Linked DNA regions of Homo sapiens. The protein of the gene in region 1 interacts with the protein of each later gene in a pairwise test. Each region holds a gene or a part of one and is shown on either strand. Other genes may lie near its edges.

Region 1 (11,890 bases):
AAGAAAACTCACCCAATATCATGAAGGAAGGCAGAGAAGATGGGTGCTAAAGCAGACAGGATTAGAGATTGGTGGTAGGGTTTCAAGTTGATGGAAGTTCCTGTTTTCTCAGTGATGCTTCAGGCACAGTCAGCAGCTCTAAGTGAGAGGGAGTGAGGCAAGGGCAGGAGCCCTGTCCTGTATCCACATTTGAGAATTCCACCTCTTCTGCCTCCTCCTAAGGCCAGCCTTGGCCCTCACAACTGAAGAGGAGCACTTTGAGAGGCTGCAGGGCTCTTCTCAACCACTGTCCTAGGACTGCTATACTAAAGCTGATCTGCTTCCGGGTCAGGGCTAACAGCCCATCCCTGAAACAGGAGAGGGCTCGTAATTGCTGGATTGATTGCCCTGGTTTCCCCACATGATCGAAGACAAGACCTGATCTTTCACTCCACACTGAAATGATATACCTGAGCCAAGGAACCTCCCAGTCTCCACTGGAAGCATCTGTGAAACAGATTTCCCCTCCCTCCTCCCACAGTAGAGTGGATACAGGAGCCTGTATGACATTCGTCAGATCTTTGGACTTTTCTGAGTCTGCTTTCTCATCTGTCAAATGGGGTTATCAGGCCTCACAGGGTGGTTGTACTGTAGAATAACGAGTGCCACACAGGTAGAGTATAGGGGCCAGCCCATAATTCCCACCCCATGCTACTTCAACTTCTGGCTGTCGCCTCTGCAAAAAGAAAAGGGGTGAGAACGATGGCTGGTTTAGCAGGACTGCAGCACAGCGATCCATTTGCAGTTCCAAATTCATTATAAATCAATCAAGTTCCGCTGCCCCTGCTTTCTCTTCCCTCTTGTGATGAAGTAACTCTTTACTGGGACAGCTTCCTGATTTTGTTAAAAGTTTTTTGTGATTCTGCTTGCTCAGCTGCTGATGGACAAACTAGTTTTATCAACTTCCATACAGGGGAGGAGAGAGGTTGACGATGAGAACGGCAGTAATTTGCTTTACATGTTGTCTTCCTCAGACTGTGTCTTCTGCTCTGTAGATTTTCACTCTTGGGAATATCTCAATCACTCTGATGACTTCAAATATGACTTTGAATGACTCTCAAATCCTTATCTTCAGTCTAGTCTTCTCTCTCATGCCGCAGACACGTACGGACCCACCTGCATCCTAGACGTCTTGTCCGATGTGTCACAAACAATTCACTCTGTCCAAAACTTGAGCTTGTCATCTTCCTTTGCATACTTCCTCTGCCACCTGCATCCATATCTCAGGAAATTCAGCCACCATCCATGTAGTTACTCCTGCCAGAAGCACAAGTATCTCTCACCCCTGCTCCTTTATCCCCCATGACCCACAGCCAAGATCCACATCACCAAGGCCTGTTAATTCTGCCACCTAAGCATCTTTTGAATCACTTACTTCTCACCCTGCCCTGTCTAGCCCAATCATCTCCCCACTATTTCTTTTTTTTTTCCCCGAGACGGAATCTCACTCTTGCCCAGGTCGGAGTGTGGTGGTGCGATCTCAGCTCACTGCAACCTCTGCCTCCCGAGTGCAAGCAATTCTCCTGCCTCAGCCTCCCCAGTAGCTGGGATTATAGGCGCGTGCCATCACGCCCAGCTAATTTTTGTATTTTTAGTAGAGATGGGGTTTCACCATGTTGGCCAGGCTGGTCTCGAACTCCTGACCTCAAGTGATCTGCCCGCCTCAGCTTCCCAAAATGCTGTGATTACAAGCGTAAGCCACTGCGCCCAGCCCCCCCGACTATTTCTAACCAGTCTCACTTATACTTGCACTTTTCCACCACCATTTATTCTCCACACTGTAGCCAGTGTAATATCACACTCTAATCAGATCTTACCTCACTTTACCACTGGCAGGGGGAACACTCTTTAAGCCTGTCAAAACCCCAAAAAACTTCCATATTCCTAAGTCAATTATCAAATCTCAGTGCCTGATTGCATGTGACACAGTTGATCTCTCTCCTTTGAACACTTTCTTCACTTATTTCTAAGGCATCACTTCTTCTTGGTTCTCCTCCCTCACTGGCTGCTCCCGCTCTGCCTTGTTTGCTGGGTCTCCCTCATTTCCCCTACTTCTTCTTCTATATGCTGAAGACTCCCGATGGTTAACTTGGCCCAGACCTAACTCTACAACTGTAACTCTACAACTGCCTACCCAGCATCTTCACTTGAATATCTAATAGATGTCTCAAATTTAACATGTCCAAAATTGAGCTCCAGATTTTATTCCCAAATCCATTTCCCCTTCAGTCTTCTCAATTTCGATTAAAGGGTACAGCTGAACTCTGGAGGGGGGTGGTGTTTTTTGTTTGTTTGTTTGTTTGTTTGTTTTTTGAGACAGGGTCTCCCTCTGTTGCCCAGACTGGAGTGCAGTGGCATGATCTCGGCTCACTGCAAACTCCTGGGCTCAAGTGATCTCCTGCCTCAGCCTCCTGAGTAGCTGGGACTCTAGTTGAGTTGTTCAGACCAAAACTCTTGGAATCCTCCCTGATGCCAGTTTTCAATTAAACAGGAAATTCTGGCAGCTCTATCTTTAAAATATACAGAAATGTGCTTCTCACCACCCTGGTCTCAACCATCATTATTTCTGGCCTAGATTATTGCAGTAACCTCCTAACTTGCCTTTCTGCTGCTTCCCTTGCTCCTCACAACCCATTCCCCATACAGCATCCTGTTAACTTTTTAAGACGTTAAATCAGTCATCAACTCAATCATGTGACTTCTCTGCTCAGAACCTTCCAATAACTTCCCGTCATTGAATAGGAGAACTAGAGCTGGGCCTGAGGATAGGCAGGCCAGAAAGTAGGAAGATAGTTTTGACCTCAGACTTGAAATTTGCATCTTTTAACAAATGTGCAAAGCCACAGTCCTGAGCTAGGTGCAGAAGACAGGAGCTTCCCTCGGGGAACTCACAGTTCCCTGGGGAGCCAGCCTTATATCTAAGTTCCTCCAACTCCTGCCAACTGCCTGTCATGCTGAAAGAGCTAGGACCCTCATGCTGTGGACCCTGCCTTTAGGGAGCTCGCAGTTCTTGGAAACGCACTGGACTCCAAACCACTCATTTCCTCAAATGACATTTGCCTATATTAGCACTGAAGTAAAGCAAAGGGAATGAGTATAGGAAAAGAAAGACAGAGCCATGTGGGGTGGCTTAAGTTGAATTCAACAAAGATAAAGGAAAGGCTTTTCATGCTGTGGATTTGAAAAGAAGAAACCTTAGAATCAACAGAAGTTGGACAGCAGAAGGTACAAGCACTGTGTGCTAGAGACATGGTCAGAAATGGGAAGAGATGGGCCTGGACTGAAACAAGATAGGAATTAGAAGCAAAGGACAAGAAGCAGCCTGTCTTCTGAGCCTTGGCCTCCCTGCCCTGTCCACATGGCACTTCTTTACCATGAGGTGAGCCTTGTCTTGCTCTGTGCCTTCCTGTGTTAAGCCCACGCTCTGCCCACATCATGAATGGGCCCCTGGATTAACCACAGGCATCGGGCCAGACACTGTTATTCATAAGGAGTGAGTGTAGGAGGCAGAAAGTATGAGACAAGGCCAGGCATGAGGGTACCCTTAAAACCTTGAGTTTTCCACCCACTCCCACCCGATGTTCTCACTTGTACTCAGCCAGACCACAGCACTTCAGACATCACTAAGGATCGAGGTGCCAGCAAGCCTGATTTTTTTGTCCTGTCTCTGCTTATGACTTTCTGAGGTCCTCAGCAACATGTCTAAACCAAGGGATAGAATTTTTCTATCCTGGCACCTCTAATCCCAGCTACTTGGGAGGCTGAGGCATGAGAATCACTTGAACCTGGGAGGCAGAGGTTGCAGTGAGTCAAGATGGTGCCACTGCACTTCAGCCTGGGCGACAGAGTGAAACTGTGTCTGAAAAAAAAAAATCTATCCTTTGGTTTCCTTTCCACAAACCAGAAGCAGCTGAAAGATAAATAGTCCTGGTAGAGAATCCCAGCTCTCCACAAAGCCACCAGATCAGATCAGTAGGGGGCCTGAGGGAACTTACTGATCCTGGGTTTCTTCTCAGCCTGTGGTCCAGGCCTGACGGCTGAGCTGCCCCTCTTGGGGCAAGAGGTCCTGACCTATTGCCTCATTTCATTAAACCACCAAGTCCCTAGCTTTCTGCAGAGCCTAAGAGAGACCTAAAGGTCAAAGTATCTCTGATAAAGGCCATACAGAGCTTTTAGAAGATAAGCAACTTGGCCACGGGTGTATAGAGGTCAGGAGAAACAGCCAAAATTGGCTGGCGCCACCCTGGCCCAGACTGCAAGTTGGCAGACACTTTTTAGGAAGGGGCTCATAGGTCTGCTGGGCAGGTGCTAGTCTCAGGTTGCCTGAGCCACTCTGAGGCCAGAGTCCAGGAGGAGCCAGGAGCTCTTCTTGTAAGAGTATAACTTTTAACCCTTCCCTCTCAAAACCTGGACTTTGGAGCCCTCTCTCTGGCAGAGCTTGGGTTCAGAAGATTGAGGATCATCTTTTGAACCAGGCCCTGTTTAAAAAAACAAACAAAAAAAAGGGTTGAGGAGTCTTGCCCTAGTCAGGCCCCTTCGTAGCATAGACTAAGGCCCAGGGTGAGGGAGTGACGTAGGCCCTGTAGAATGGGCCTGTCCGGGAAGGCTTCTTGGAGTAAGGAGAGGGTGGCATCAGGTGGGGTGTGGCACGGAGGGAGCATATCGGTAATAAGAACCACATGACCAGACCTCTAATTTAGGCATGGAGGGTGAGCTCAGAGCATGAGACCAGAGCCATGCGGCAGCCGGGCTGAGCAGGTCAGATTTGGGATTTGCCTCTCAGGGCTGGGCCTCTAGTCTAAGTGCCTTGTCCTCACTTCCCCTCTGCTCCTACTTGTGGCTGCTGAGTTTGCTGCTCTCTGTAGTATCAAGGAAGTTCTAGTCCAGGCCAGACTCTGAGAGCCACCCCAGGGAAAGGCAGCCAGCCAAAGGGGTGAAAGTTGAGCAAGGCAGGCAGCTATATTGAGCCCTCACTCGGCCTCTGATGCAGCAATCCATTGGCAGGTCCACCTAGCCAGCCAGACCCAGGCGGCTGTTTACTTTCAGTTTTCAGCTCCTGAGTCAATGTTTATGTCACTTAAAGGGGCTACTGTGGAAAAGAACAGAACTTTAGCCCTCATCCCAGACCAGAGGCTCACTGTTACCAAAGAAGGGGGGAAGACAGTGGGGCGGGGAGAACTTGCCTGGTCTAGCACTGCTTACCTCAGTACAGGAGATCCTGTACCCCAGCTCTACTCAGGACTTTTGGGGCCTGACCCTTTGCCAGGGATGGGGTCTGAGAACAGCAAGGCTTCATTTTGCTCTTGGGTCTGCAGCTGGTATTGGCTCTAGCTCCATCTTAGCCTCTGTGTTTTGTAAGATATTATACCTGGTCAGAACCTCGGCCATATCTGAATTTTATTTGAACCCAGCATAGACCTGGATAAGAAGACCAAACAGAAGTTCTTAGATCCACTTGACAGTGAAGCTAAGACCCAGAGAGACCCAGAGTGAGAAAGCATCTTGGTCTTGAGTGAGTGAGACAGTTAGGTTGGGCCACAGACCAGTGTCCCTTCCACTGCACTCCATTGCCTGTCCTCTGAGAAAGTCCCTCAGATACTTGGAAGCAGGGGTAAGTGGGGGCACCTGTACCCACCAACCCCTGGGAGCATGTGGCCTGTTCGAGGAATCCATCTGGGGGCTGGAGTGAAGAGAACCTAGAACACAGTGGCTGGGATCAGATCATGTTCCAGGCCAAAGAAGAGGGCCAGGCCCTCCTGAGAGAGCTTTTGGAGAAGAGTCTGCATCACAGGGAGCAGACCAGAGAAGGAGCCAAGGGCCGGGATAAGCCCGTGGTTTATAGAGTGCCTCCTCTTGCATTATCTGCTCATCCTGATCCCATTCAGATGCACAAACCAAGGCCCAAAGAGAAGGTGGGTTGCCCAACACCGCTTGGCTAAGAAGTGGTAGAGCCAGGACTAGAACCAGCTCCTTATGCAGGGTTAGCCACTCAATTTGAAGAGCCTCAGGAAGCCCCACATTTTCTTTCCAAACCACTCCTTACACCTTCCACGTGCTCCATTTTCTCCCCAGCAAAGTCTGATCTTTAGCATTGAAGGCTCTTTTAAGACACATCTATTATCAGAGAGGCCTATCATGTTCATGACCTGGGTGTCCAGGTACTCAGAAAGGAACAGGTCCCATGTATGGATGAGGTAGGATTTAATGGGGCAGCCTGAAAGCCCCTGGCCTACTGCCGTGCTTGACACCCGGTCCACAGGAAAGCCAGTTCTGTCCTTCAGCCTAGTACAGTCGTCAAATACCCCATCCCTGTTCCCTGGGAAGGCCCTTACAGATCAGCTCGCTGAAGTCCAAGAAGAATAAGATCAAATTCCCCCCAGACATTCTGGAACTTCCTCAACCAGCATCAACCCCTCTTCTAGTAATAGGTTTGTCTTGGCTGTTCTCCATACCTGCAGCTCAGCCTATCCACCCCCACCACTTTCCTAGCAAAGAAAATTCCTTCCTCACAAAACCTGCACCTCCACGTGGCATACCCTCTCTCTTCATTGTCTGTTCACATTCCACCTTCATGTTTAAGTTCCCGCTCCAGGGACTTCACCCCATGGATGACACCCGCTGTCTAGACTCCAAGGCACCTGCAGCCCCTCCAGCTACGACGATCCTGCTTCCATGTGTGTTCCTCCTGCCTCCCCAGGAAGGTTGATGCCTCCCACAAAGCCCATGTTCTGCTGACAACTTTCTTGTGCCCTCAGGTCTACAGCCAGAAGTGTAGGAGTATTTCAGAGGAATGGATGATACATTTGAGGGTATCCCTGCTCTGGCCAATTTCGCCTCTGGCCAACCCCACCAGGGTTGTGTGTTAGGGTAGCAGTCCTGATGAAGGAAGAATCTTCACTACTAGTCAAGATGGTTTCTAAACCCTATTGAGGTCAACAAAAGCAAAATGCTGCTGAGTGTGAGTTCTCTGTCCTTCCACACCCCGCCCCTGCCCTGTACACAGAGCCAAGCCCTGTCCTTGTCCTTGTTCTGATTCCTGGGCCTGGGCCTTGCAGATAAGGCCCCCTAGGTCATTGGGTTAGGGTATCAGTGCTGGAAGGTTGGTGCCACACACGATTCAGCTCCAGGGCAGATATGGCCCAGCCAGTAGGTGTAGGTCTGTGCTCATGCTGTTCCCTCTAATGAAAGACCTCACCTGACAGCCAGCTTCTGTTGAGACCTTGCCCATCTTGGAGCCCACCTCCTGTGAAGCCGCCCCAGACTTTCTCAGCTGTTACTAATTGCTATTTTCTCAGTGCTCACAAGCTCTAAGCTTCATCTCTGTGATTGTTGGGTAGCTCATTGTCTGTCTTCTCTCTAGCTGAGCAGCCCTATGACAACAGGAACCACGTCTGCCTGTTGTCCATAAGAGTTGATCAAGTTGATTAGATCTTAGGCTCCTGAAAAGTTTGATGAGTCACCAACAGAGGTGTTTTGTTTTGAGACAGGGTCTTCCTCTGTCACCCAGGTTGGAGTGCAGTAGCATGATCATGGCTTACTGCAGCCTTGAATTCTTGGGCTCAAGCGATCCTCCCACCACAGCCTCCTGAGTAGCTGGGACCACAGGTGTGCACCACTACACCCTGCTAATTTTTTTTTTCCTTTTTTTTTTTTTTTGAGACAGGGTTTCCCTATGTTGACCAAGCTGGTCACAAACTCCTAGACTCATGCGATCCCCCTGCCTTGGCCTCCCAAAGTGCTGGGGTTACAGACGTGAGCTACCCAGCCCAACAGAGGTCTTTTTATGGTCATTTCATGAACTGAGGTAGTTGGCCCTTCCAGCCATGGAGAACAAGACTCATCTAAGTCTCTCTAAAACAGAGAAGACATCTCTTCTAGAAAATGGGGAAACAAATGCCTGGTTTTAGGATTTGAGATAGAATACTATGCTCTAAGGCCTGTTTTCCCATCTGGCTCATAAAACAAACATCTCCCTACTTCCCCTTCAGAGTAGCAGAGAAAGAAATGGAAGGTAAGATACAACTGATGACCCAGAAAATCTACCTGCAGTACAGCTGGGGGTCAGGAATGGGACTTGTGTCATCCTAAATCCCAAATAGCTCAGGAAACAGCCATCTTGGATCTTGGGAGTAGAGAAAGATATACACAAGCTTAAAGTGCTACATAGAGCCTGAGAGAGTTTAACTTAACTAAAGACCTGGCATATGGTAGGACAACAACCACTGGTTCTAGAATGAATGAATGAGAAGCTTACTACAAAGAGTCTCCTCCCCACCCAATTTAAACCTGTGGTTACCCTGGCCTGGTCCCACCCACACTGGTCTAGCAGCTCCCAGGCTCCTGTCTTGGAACTGGCCTCGCTGGGATCCCAAGCCTCAGACCCAGGCCGTGCCCTGCAGGAGCACCCAGTGTGGAAGTGGGAGAGCAACAGGCAGAGGCTGGCCACTGGCCTCCCCTGGTCTGAGGCATCATGCAGTGCAGGTGCTTCCTGTATTTTGGAAGGAAGAACTGCAAACACCAGCAAAAAGTGGGTTTCCTTCTTCCCTTCTAGCCTAGACCTGCCTAGAAGGCAGGGAGATAGATCTTCTAGTCTCTGCTGTGCAGCCCAGCCCTAGTATCACTTTGCTCTTGGTTATAAGGAAAGGCTGCCTGTGGGCTCATAGCACTGAGAGCTTCCCAGATTGTAGACATTCCCTTGGCACTTAGAATTCTAGACTGGCAGGGACCCTCAAGGTTTCCCATCCACACTTCTATTTCATGGGTGGGAAACTGACATCCAGGCAGTAGATCAGGGATGCCTGACTCCACTCCCCTTATCTCATTCTGGCAATTCTAATTCTTTAGGCAGATCTCTCTGCCTCCAGGGCTTAACTCTGAGCTGAGAAAGCCTAAAACGGAGTTCTGTTTATTTCTGCGCCCCTCTCAAGTAGGTATTAAAAAAGATTGAAGACATGAAAGAAAGAATAACTGAATGTTACTGATGCCAGAAGCAACTCTCGCTGGGCGCAACTCTCGCTGGGCGCAACTCTCGCTGGGCCTCAGTTTCTCATGAGCAGAACTGCAGGGGGTAGGTGGTCCCAGTCTCTAGGGTCTCCACCAAGCTTCTTCTCAGTGCCCAGGAAGTGGTACAGTGTGCTCTCAATAGTCCTTCAGCTTATGACAGCCTCAGCTCATGGGACTTGATGACAGGGAAGAGCAAGCTGCATGCCATGAAGTCAGCCAGGTTTGCCTGTGGAGGCTGCTCCCATCTCCTTTCAGAACTGCCCCCTCCCCTATCAGGCCCCCACTTCTTCCCCAGGGCCTTGCTCTCAGCCAGCTGTCTGGGATGGCTTTCCTGTATAGCTTTGAGCTCCTTCAGCACAGGAGCCTGACATGGAGTAAGAAAAAAGAAAGAAAAATGAGTTAGAGGAGTCCAGAGGACCATGATACCATAGCCCACAGGTTTAAGTACCTTAAAGGCGGAATTAGTGATGCCCTGTCAGCCAGAGTCAGAGAGATCAAAGTTTGGTAGCCAAGCAGTAGGTAGGTGCTTTATGTCACCTGGCAACTCCAGGAGCTCCAAAGGGCCAAACAGAGAGTGTATTATTCACCGCCATCTCCCTGAGAGTTGGATATGTTCCCAGCATCACACATGGGACTAAACCCAGAGGACAAATGACTTGTCTAAAGCCATGCAACAGGAGAAGGGATGAGGATTCAAACCTATCCTGGAGGTGACGCTGCCTCCTTCTCCAGAGGCACAGAAAGAGTCAGGGCTGGGGTTCACGTCCCAGCTCTGCTACTCAGAGCTGTGGGACCTTGAGTTTATTCCACCTGAATGTAGTTTCCTTATCCACGACATGGGGAGAATGATATACCCCCCATATGGGGTTGAGGTAAGGGTCAAGCAAGATAAGGTACGTAAAGCGCTTTGTAAACCAGGCAGCTCTACATAAATATTAACCAAAGGACCAAAAGATGAGAGAAACCAGCGTCATCCATTGGTGGTGCCATATCCTCAGTGGTAACCTAGCTGACTTCTTCCTCTCCAGGACAAGAGCGAAGCCACCAGGGGAGCTCTCTCCCAAAGGCCTTGTCGCCCCAGACCTAACTCGCTCCCCCTCAACCTGCCTGAGGAAGAAACTCTCAGGATTGCACGGATATTTTCTTCTCAGTACTCCCAGAAAGACTGACGCAGCCTGAGGGGCTGGGGGGAAGGAGACACCTGCCCACCCTCCGTCAGCTTTGTCCAGCTTGCAGGAGGCACCAGGTCTGGCTCCTTCAGGGCTGTCACAGTCCTGAAACCACCACTTGCCTAGGCCACGGATGCCTCAAGAGACCCGGTCAGCCCAGACTGGAGGAGTGCCCCAAACCAGTCCAGTGTCCACTTGCCAGAATTTCAGCTCCTTTTTTCTGTGGTGAGGCAAAGGCTAGAAATAAAATGGAATCCGCGCCCAAGTGGGACCCAAGCAGGCATCTTTCGGTGGAGAAACGCCCCCCAGTGTCCTTGACACAGCTGACTGCTGGCATGAGCCCACCCTCTGCCTGAAGATGCAGGACCATTTTTGCCTTAAAAGTTGGGGAGGAGGGACATGTAGATTGTGTGCATTGTGCATAGTCAAGGAAATCCTAGGGCCACCTCCAGTTCATTTGTGTGGGAACAAGGATATTTTATAGATACAAATTATTTTTATGCTGTGTTGAATTAATCAATTAGGAGAGGAAGGGGAAATCACTTCCTTCAAACTTTTTATCTGATTGTCTAAAATTCTAACCATGCTTTTAACTTATTATTTTTACCCAGCTCTGAAGGTCATTGTTCTTGCCTGTGTTTGAATAAAATCATATTGGTGTTTGTAATCTGTGCACAAGTGTTTCGCTGGAGTGGGGATGCTAGGAATTCGTGTGTGCCCTAACTGCCAGAGAGAAAGATTAACAACCATACACCCCACGCAGACGAAGATCAATCACCATGAGACTTCTGGCTCCTCCAGAATCAGGTTGGTCCAGATGACAGTGACACCCAGTATTTCCTTTGCTGATGCTTGAAATCCATCAGACAAAGCCCCGTGGGGAGGACAAGAAAAGGGCCATGGATGGGTGCAGTGGCTCACACCTGTAATCCAAACACTTTGGGAAGCCGAGGCAGGCAGATCACCTGAGGTCAGGAGTTTGAGACTACCCTGGCCAACCTGGCAAAACCCCGTCTCTACTAAAAAAAAAAAAAATACAAAAATTAGCTGGGCGTGGTGCACGCCTGTAGTCCTAGCTACTCAGGAGGCTGAGGCAGGAGAATCACTTGAACCCAAGAGGTGGAGGTTGCAGTGAACCGAGACCACGCCACTGCACTCCAGCCTGGACAACAGAGCAAGACTCCGTATCACAAAAAAAAAAAAAAAAAATGGGGTCGCGGGAGCCAAATGTGCAGAGTGAGCAGTGTGGCTGGGCAACAGGCTTTCACCCCCAAGTACATGTCACTTCACTCAGTCCTCAAAACAGCTCTCTAACTCTAGATATTATGATATCTAGAGTTTCTGTAAGTTCAGTGTTTTGCCTCTGTTTGTGTAGTTAGGAAGTGATTAACCACACAAGAAATCCCAGAGGTATTGCAAGGCTACTGCTTTCAGTAATCAAAACAAGGTACAGCCAATAAGTGCTCTGAATTTAGGGACTTCATGGAGAAAGACCATGTGGGCTGGGGCAGTCAGGGAAGGCTTCCTAGAAGAGACAGGTCTTGGGGTGAGCACAGAGAATTGGCCCAGGCTGTGGACAGCTATAGAGAGAGAGCCAGGAAAGCCTGTGAGCAGTGTGCAGCTGGAGATAGAGACCAGTCTCACTGCGTCTGAGCCTCTGTGGCCTCGTCTGTAAAACA
Region 2 (8,612 bases), on another chromosome or scaffold:
TCAATATGCTGTAACTAGGTCAGTTCATAAAATACACTGAGGACTTCTGGCTCTTTCCTTCTACTTCCCAGTAGTGATATCATGTAGCAGTTTTAGTCTGTGGAACTAGACACATGTGATTTTTTCCTAAATTTGTTAGCTCAGCTATGGTAGTTTATTTACTTTTTATATTTTTGTTAATTTCAGGAACCAGAAGCTCCAGGAAGAAAAACATAAAAGCATAACTGAGGCACTTAGGAGACAGGAGCAGAATATAAAGAGTTTTGAGGAGACCTATGACCGAAAGCTCAAGAATGAACTTCTAAAGTAATTGTTTAGCATTTTTAAATAACTAATATGTTTAAATTAAATTGGTAGAAACATAACAAAAACTGACAAAGTAGTCTGTAACTTAGGCAAACTTTAGTGTTTGAAAAAAAAAAAACATAGTTTTATCGATACAGTCAATCCTTTCCTGCATTTGAGTTAGGATAGTTTTTAAAAGATAAGGGCCGGGTGTGGTGGCTCATGCCTATAATCCCAGCACTCTGGGAGGCTGAGGTGGGCGGATCACCTGAGGTCAGGAGTGCAAGACCAGCCTAGCCAACATGGTGAAACCCCATCTCTACTAAAAATACAAAAATTAGCTGGGTGTGGTGGTGGGCACTTGTAATCCCAGCTACTGGGGAGGCTGAGGCAGGAGAATCACTTGAACCCGGGAGGCAGACGTTGCAGTGAACTGAAGTTGTGCTACTGCACTCTACTAGCCTGCGTGACAGTGACAATCCATCTCAAAAATTAACAACAATAAAAAAATACAGAGAAGCACATCCTCTGCGCTTCTTATGGCTTCTCTAACGTTTATTGTGGGCTGTGATTTGCTTTAATTTTCAGGACACCTTGTGACTTGCTTAGCTTGCATAGTTGATAAGCTGTAAAATTGGAATTATAACCACTTTTAGTTATCTTTTCCTCTACCTCACTCATACAGTCAGAAGGATGGGGTTATCTGACAATATATAAATTATACTAGTGGTCATAGTATTTGTCAGTGAACATGTGCCTTGTATTCCTTCAAGATTCAGCAAAGCCAGAATCAAAAGAGCTAAAATTAACTATGTGAGGCAAAAAGTGATATAGGGAAAGGAAAATATGGACAACTATGGTAACTTTGGCTTTTCTGTAGTCTGAGTTTTGTGTATCAGTGAATAATATCTCAGTGCTACGACATTATGCCCATGTGGTAACATTTCTCTTCAGTGTGTGGGAAAGCATCTGGCACATAAAAAGTGCTCAGTTAATATTTGTTGTAAATGTGTCACGAGGAAATGATTCAACTCAGGTGCTCTGGGCATTTCTTATTTGGCCTCTTTTATTGCCTTTCTCATAATTTGTCATCGATATTCCATTACATAATATTGCAAAGGTTTCTTGAGGTAATCCTTTAAACAAATCCTATTTTTAAAAAATATGGCAGCTTTTTTATCTATTGATTTTGAAATGATGTATTTTACCCACATCTTCTATGTCAGTTTCTATACTAAAATAGCTAAAATGGAAGTGTCTGTAGTTGCTGAATTTTTAGGAATAAATGAATTAAAGTATGTGTGTTAATTTTACATAGTTATGGAGCTAGTGAACTATTTGGTGTCATTGTGACAGCTTCCACAGGCTGCATGGTGTCTGCCTGGCTTTGGGAATCCTCATATGACTTTGGCAGGTGTTGGAGTTTGGAGGCTCTTCGCCACAGGAGTGCTTCTATTTCCTTTTGGAACCAAAAGGGCAGCTGGTAACAGCTGGGAAAGGGAAGTGAAACTGTGAAAATGTGCCTTTTGGTATTGCTAATCCGGATATAATGCTCTTGGCAGTTGGCTCTCAGGACTGTGCTTAGTCCCTGAGCACAAAAGTTCTTACCTTGGTTGGGGGTGGGCAGATGGTACAGGTGGATTGGAAGTGACCGTCTGATTATCATTTGGGATTGAGTCTGTTGTGTGCTGTGTAAATTTAATTTACCCCTTTGCTCTTTGTGTCAGTTGAGACCAACTGAAAAGTGATTGCTTTCAGTAAGTAACCTTATGATAACACGACGCTTCATTTTGTGTGATTGAGTTTTGGGACCCAGTTTATAGGATCAAGGAAGGGTTTTACTGGGCATTTTATGTTCAGGGGTTATATCCCTGGCTTTAGTATTGAGGACTTTGAAGTTTACAAGTTGTCATGTTTAGCACCCTCAGGTGCTCCTGTGCCATAGATAAGCTCCTGCACTGATAACAGTCTTTCCAGAAAAATGCCTGAGGAGCTCATATTTAGTCATTCTGATTCTCAGGTATCAACTTGAACTGAAGGATGACTACATCATTAGAACTAATCGACTGATTGAAGATGAAAGGAAGAATAAAGGTGATGTTTGGGGGGAAAATAAGCTGTATTTTTCAGTTCTGCTGTAGGTTATTAGCTTCCCAAGTTGGGTCTTTTCTATATTCTAAAAAATACAGCTTACACTTCATTGTTCATACAAAATTACACATTTTTTGTAATTTTAATTTTATAAATTAAAAATCATGGTCTTCACTGCCTTTTGAGGAACCTTCATGTTTAATAGTTTGTATATTCACAAAGGCCAGTGATTTATCATGGATATTTTATCCAACTTTATTTCATATATTTTGATAAATCTGCAATTGTCAGGAACGTAGCAGCAACTTATTGCTGTCAAGTACGTATTACTCCTAACCATGAGAGACTTTATTTTTCACTTACGGAAAACTTTTAACTTCTCTGTCCTCTGTGACCTAGTTTCTTATTTCTTTTGCTTCTAATATATTTTTATGCTTTATAATATTTTTACTTGATGTATAACCTTCTGAACTCTTGTGTACATTGGCCTGAGACTATGGAAGTTGAATAATTTTTCAATCTTCAGATGTTTTACATTTCAGTGTATTTTTTTTTTTTTTTGAGACGGAGTCTCGCTCTGTCACCTAGGCTGGAGTGCAGTGGTGCGATCTCGGCTCACTACAAGCTCCACCTCCCAGGTTCACGCCATTCTTCCACCTCAGCCTCCCCAGTAGCTGGGACTACAGGCACCCACCAACACGCCCGGCTAATTTTTTGTATTTTTAGTAGAGGCGGGGTCTCAGCGTGTTAGCCAGGATGATCTCGATCTCCTGACCTCGTGATCCGCCCGCCTCGGCCTCCCAAAGTGCTGGGATTACAGGCGTGAGCCACCACGCCCGACCCATTTCAATGTATTTCTAGGAAATTGCTGTAACAAGAAGTTGAAGTTTTGGTGGAAATTTCAAGTAGATTCCTGGGAGGAAACCAGGGTTAGATAGTTGATGTTGACCAGATACCCAATGTGTGGCTACTGTCTTTTTTTTTTTTTTTTTTTAAGAGACGGAGTCTTGCTCTGTTGCCCAGGCTGGAGTACAGTGGCACAATCTCAGCTCACTGCAACCTCTGCCTCCTGGGTTCAAGTGATTCTTGTGCCTCAGCCTCCCAAGTAGCTGGGACTACAGGTGTGCGCCACCATGCCTGGCTAATTTTTGTAGAGAGAGAGTTTCACCATGTTGGCCAGGCTGGTCTCGAACTCGTGACCTCAGGTGGTCCGCCTGACTTGGCCTCCCAAAGTGCTGGGATTACAGGCGTGAGCCACTGTGCCCAGCCCCTTTTACTATCTTGTGGAGACTAATACTTCTTTTATGCATTAATACCATTACGTATGTAACAAATTATGGTTTGATGATATATCTACATAGACTTGTGTTAGATGAAGTGAAAACTACAAAATAGTAACTACAATATAGTAACAGACAGATCTTTGTCTTCAAGGAAGTTAAGAGCTGTGGGTATTAGGGCCCTGTGCTTTGAGCACATGGTATAACTCTGGTTAGCATGTATAGCAAGTGGAATTTCACCACATATATGACAGTTACAGCTTCACATCACCTGTTGGGTAACAGGGTTTATTTCTTACTTGCCCGCTACATCTGCTATTTGGATTGTGAAATAGTGGTCATTAGGTCTGACATACTGGCCATAAATATTAAATGGCTTTTGTATTCACTAGGAAAACATTATGGTGTTTAATTGGTGGGCTCTTTTTTCAGAAAAAGCTGTTCATTTGCAAGAGGAGCTCATAGCTATTAATTCAAAAAAGGAGGAACTCAATCAATCTGTAAATCGTGTGAAAGAACTTGAGGTAATTGTTAAGCATGTTGGTTTTTGAAATAGATTTTAAGCAATATATGAAATTTTAGTCATACATAATTTATCCTAAGTCATCCTGTTGAGATGTTTGGACTGCCATTTATATGGCTAAGAAGGTGTTAGCTGAAGTTAATTCAATAGTTCTTAATTTCAGTCAGTGTCACATAGGAAAGTGTAGATAGAGCTTTGGGTCCTGGAGTCCTGCCCACATCCTGTCTGTGTCTCTAACTGCTTGTGTGTCGCTAGGTAAGTTCTGTGACTGCAGGTTCCTGAGCTGTAAACTAGGATGTTTTCCACATTATAGGGTTGTTGAGGGAATTCAGTAAGCTAACTTATGTGCCTAGTTCATAGCAGGTGGCCATTACTATTAGTTTCTACATCAGCCTGTTATCTCCTTCCATCAGCAGCAGGTAAACAAAATTCCTGTCATTACATTGTTATCTTACAGATTAAAACAAAATGAGGTACATTTTTCACATATCATTGCTTCTTTACTTTTCTGTTCATTCGTGTGCTTGCTGTCTGAAGGATGAAGCTGGAACTTTAGGTACTTACAACATATTTTGTATATGAAATTTATTTTAGCAACTGTGACTTATGTGAGAACTTTGTAGGCTTTTTACTCAAATATGAGATATACTAAGAAAAGGGAAGCACTTCACAACATTTTACAGAATCTTTTTTCCTTTCTTTCCCTTTTTTTTTTTTTTTTTTTTTTGAGACAGAGTCTTGTTCTTTCGCCCAGGCTGGAGTGCAGTGGTGTGATCTTGGCTCACTGCAACCAACCTCCACCTCCCGGGTTCAAGTGATTCTCATGTCTCAGCTCCCAAGTAGCTGGGATTTCAGCCATGTGCCACCACACCCAGCTAATTGTTGTATTTTTAGTAGAGATGGGGTTTCACCATGTTGCCCAGGGTGGTCTCGAACTCCTGAGCTCAAGCAATCCTCTTGCCTCAGCCTCCCAAAGTGCTGCGATTACGGGCGTGAGCCACCATGCTCAGCCATTTTTATCTTACCTTTCATATTTAAAAAATATATATTGCTATGATGTGTGATTATTGTTGGGTTCTTGGTTGCCTCTGGAAAATGGGATGATAATCTTAGAAGGACTTGCTTCATGGGATGCGGCCTATAAAAGTTCTGCCCCAACTGTAGGGCGGAAGATAATTTTCGTTATTGTAGTTAGAGTCTTATTGTAGAGAATCAGACTTCTGTCTAGTGACCTTAATTAAATTGTGACACCATGCTTAAAGGAGCCTGCCAGCTTTTACTTTTGCAGTACTGTAAAGTCATTATTCAAATGTAAATTTTCCTTTTTGAATTTTAGCTTGAATTAGAGTCTGTCAAAGCCCAGTCTTTGGCAATAACAAAACAAAACCATATGCTGAATGAAAAGGTTAAAGAGATGAGTGATTATTCACTACTAAAAGAAGAGAAACTGGAGCTTCTGGCACAAAATAAATTACTTAAACAACAACTGGAAGAGAGTAGAAATGAAAACCTGCGTCTCCTAAACCGTATGTATTTTTCTTTTCTTCTGACTTGCGTGTTTTAGTAATTCGCATTAGGTCAGTATTATAAAACTATGCTTTGTACTTGTATAAGGTAGGGGGCTTACATTGGGAAGATTTATAAAATTAAGATTCTTGGATTAAACTCTGCAAACCTGCCTATAGGTGGTATCAAAGCTTCCCTTGCCCTCTGACTGCTGATTGGGTTTGGCCAGTGGGGACACCAGCCTCTACATACAGTGGCCCTAGGCTGGCCACTGTGCCTCATGGCCAAGTGAGGCCATAGTGCCTGCGATTACCTCTTCCAAGTGCTCTGCACCACCACCCTGTCTCTAGTGCTGAGAATTTCTCCCTCCTCTGATTCCCCAGGCCCAAGGAGCGCTAACAGTATGGCCCTGTTACTAGCCCACCCAGGGAACTCCACCATCCTTTGTGCATACCCTGAATAAGTCAACCTTTATTAAAGGGTTCTTAGATGACCTTGACCGTGAGAGCCATCTGCCTTCTGCCTGGATCCCAACTGCTGCTGTCAGATGCCCAGATCATATTGGATCCCAGGGCTGTCATCAACAGGTAGACCAGATAGAGAGCTCCTTCTGTGCACAGTAGAGGAGAGAAACAGGCTTTCAGGTTAATTTGAGAATTTGAAAGAGTTCTTTTACTTGGAGTAGGACTCCAAGGGTAATAAAGTTTGCATTAACATGCACTAAATTCTTTTGTTGTGAAATTTGAGAGTCAGGATTGCTCTGAGCTCATTTAATAGAATTATTATCATATTTATTGAGTCAGTACAAAGCAAAGAACACTTTAAAACCCCTTTAACTGTTTTTGTTAAGTTAAATAAGAAAACTTAAGGTTGGTAATGACTAGGATTTTTTTTTTTTTTTTACCTTCTTAGGCCTAGCTCAGCCGGCTCCTGAACTTGCAGTCTTTCAGAAAGAACTACGGAAAGCCGAAAAGGCTATAGTGGTTGAGCATGAGGAGTTCGAAAGCTGCAGGCAAGCTCTGCACAAACAACTGCAAGACGAAGTGAGTATTGCTCTTCTTCAGTTCTAGTGTGATACCAGTACACTTCATAGTTACGTAAACTTGGCACAAGTCACACTAGTGTAAATCAGATTTATTTTAACATCAAACATTACTCCCCCAAATATGCTAAAGGTATCCTTTCTCATCTGAGAAAATTCTGCAGTGATAACGTGACTTTATATTCGTAATAGTAATAAAATGGAGAAGAAAGCAAACTCACCTAAACATAAAATTTTCTGAGTGCCTGATGGTGCCCACTGTTATCTCTCGATTCTCACCCTGATAAGTATTACAAACATTCACTGTCTTCTGATTTCTGCCTGCATGCCCTAGAGTTCTTTGATATGACTGAAAAAGATGGTGAAGAACTTGTTTGTGTGTTCTGCTTGTGTTTTTTTTTAATAGGGACCCTGTTGTTTACTGTCATAAAGCTTCTTGGAATTGGCAGAACAAAAAGAGTACAAACATGATAAGAGAACTTTTCCTTTTGAAGCAAGCTGTGATTTGTTTTACATTGATTTCTTTTCCTATTCTGAATCTTTTCAGATTGAGCATTCTGCACAGCTGAAGGCCCAGATTCTAGGTTACAAAGCTTCTGTAAAGAGTTTAACTACTCAGGTTGCCGATTTAAAATTGCAACTGAAGCAAACTCAGACAGGTTAGAGACGTTTTAACCCATAAATATTTTTGTATGTATAAAGCTTCTGGTGTCTGTGAAAATGTAATGATCATAATTTATTGAATATTAATTATTGTTTTAGGGGAAAAGCCATAGAAATATGTGTCATCTTAGAAGTAAAACTCCCTATCCATTTTGGTAATACCATCTGGATCATCAGCAAAAGTATTTTGCTTCATAGGTGCCTCATGGCTTGGGAGAGTCTCATGCCCCAATAGGAAAGGCGTGGTGGTAACATAGAAGTCCCCATATTCATTATAGGATTTCCTTTTTTATTTGTTACCCCAATGTTAACACCAATTCAGTAGTTTTACGGATTCCTTGATAGATATATAAATATACAGGACAAGCAGGGTGGTTTAGCAAAAAGAATATTGCCTTCAGAATCAGAACTGTTCTTCTTTTGGACCCGTTTTGAAGTTGTTTGACCTTGGGCATGTTACTTTAACTTCCTTGGGCCTCAGTCTCCTCATTTGTAATGGGGATAATAATACCTACTGAGCCATGATGAAAAAGATGAAATGGGTTTCAGTCCAGTGCCTGGGACATAAAAGACACTCAGGAAATGGTTATTGGTATCATTTTATTATTGTGTCTTCACTGTGGATGCATCTCTGCCCCTTCCTACTTCGTAAGAAGGATATTAAAGTTCAGATACTTTATTCTTCAGTTGCTTTCAAGTTCAAAGAAAGTACGTATGTGTTACCAGTTCAACTGGGTCTGAGCCTTCCTTGTTCCCACCTGCATTGTTTCCTCATCAGCTCCTTGCTCTCTTCTACCAGCACTTGTTTTATTTTTATCTCTACTCGTTTCTGCTTTTTTCTGTTCCTCATTTTCTTTCAGTTCTGTTTGTGAAACTTCTCACAGCTGAAATCATAGCAGTCTCCTATCAATAAAAAATAGTTGAATGAGGATAGAACTCTTTCGCATGCATGTGTTGCCGAGGGCAAGCTTCTTTCTTGTAGCATCACGGGGAGGCATTGCAGGAGAGAGGGGCAGGTGCACTGGCTTTGCATTAGGAAAGCCCAGTAGCTCTTAGACTTGCTAACCGTGTGACCCAGCCTCAGTAAGCTTTAGTCCCCCCATCTGTAAAATGGGAGCAGTGAGAGTTTCTTGACCACAGTGTTGTTGTGAATGCAGGTCCTCACTTCCTTATATGAAACTCGGGCCATATGCTGTGGATTTCGCAATAGCCCTGGGAGTTC

The links.
Region 2: the proteins of C2CD3 (region 1) and OFD1 interact in binary tests that used the Homo sapiens proteins (3 or more experiments, as listed by UniProt).

What each region holds. Positions count from the first base shown.
Region 1 is NC_000011.10:74,011,706-74,023,595, reverse strand, and holds the end of C2CD3 (C2 domain-containing protein 3), read left to right. Parts: intron 1-10,070; coding exon 10,071-10,211; 3' UTR 10,212-10,878; downstream 10,879-11,890. UniProt on the Homo sapiens protein: Component of the centrioles that acts as a positive regulator of centriole elongation.
Region 2 is NC_000023.11:13,751,063-13,759,674, forward strand, and holds part of OFD1 (centriole and centriolar satellite protein OFD1), read left to right. Parts: intron 1-186; coding exon 187-306; intron 307-1,641; exon of another isoform or gene 1,642-1,655; coding exon of another isoform or gene 1,656-1,768; intron 1,769-2,305; coding exon 2,306-2,379; intron 2,380-4,088; coding exon 4,089-4,180; intron 4,181-5,515; coding exon 5,516-5,705; intron 5,706-6,597; coding exon 6,598-6,728; intron 6,729-7,274; coding exon 7,275-7,386; intron 7,387-8,612. UniProt on the Homo sapiens protein: Component of the centrioles controlling mother and daughter centrioles length. Recruits to the centriole IFT88 and centriole distal appendage-specific proteins including CEP164. Involved in the biogenesis of the cilium, a centriole-associated function.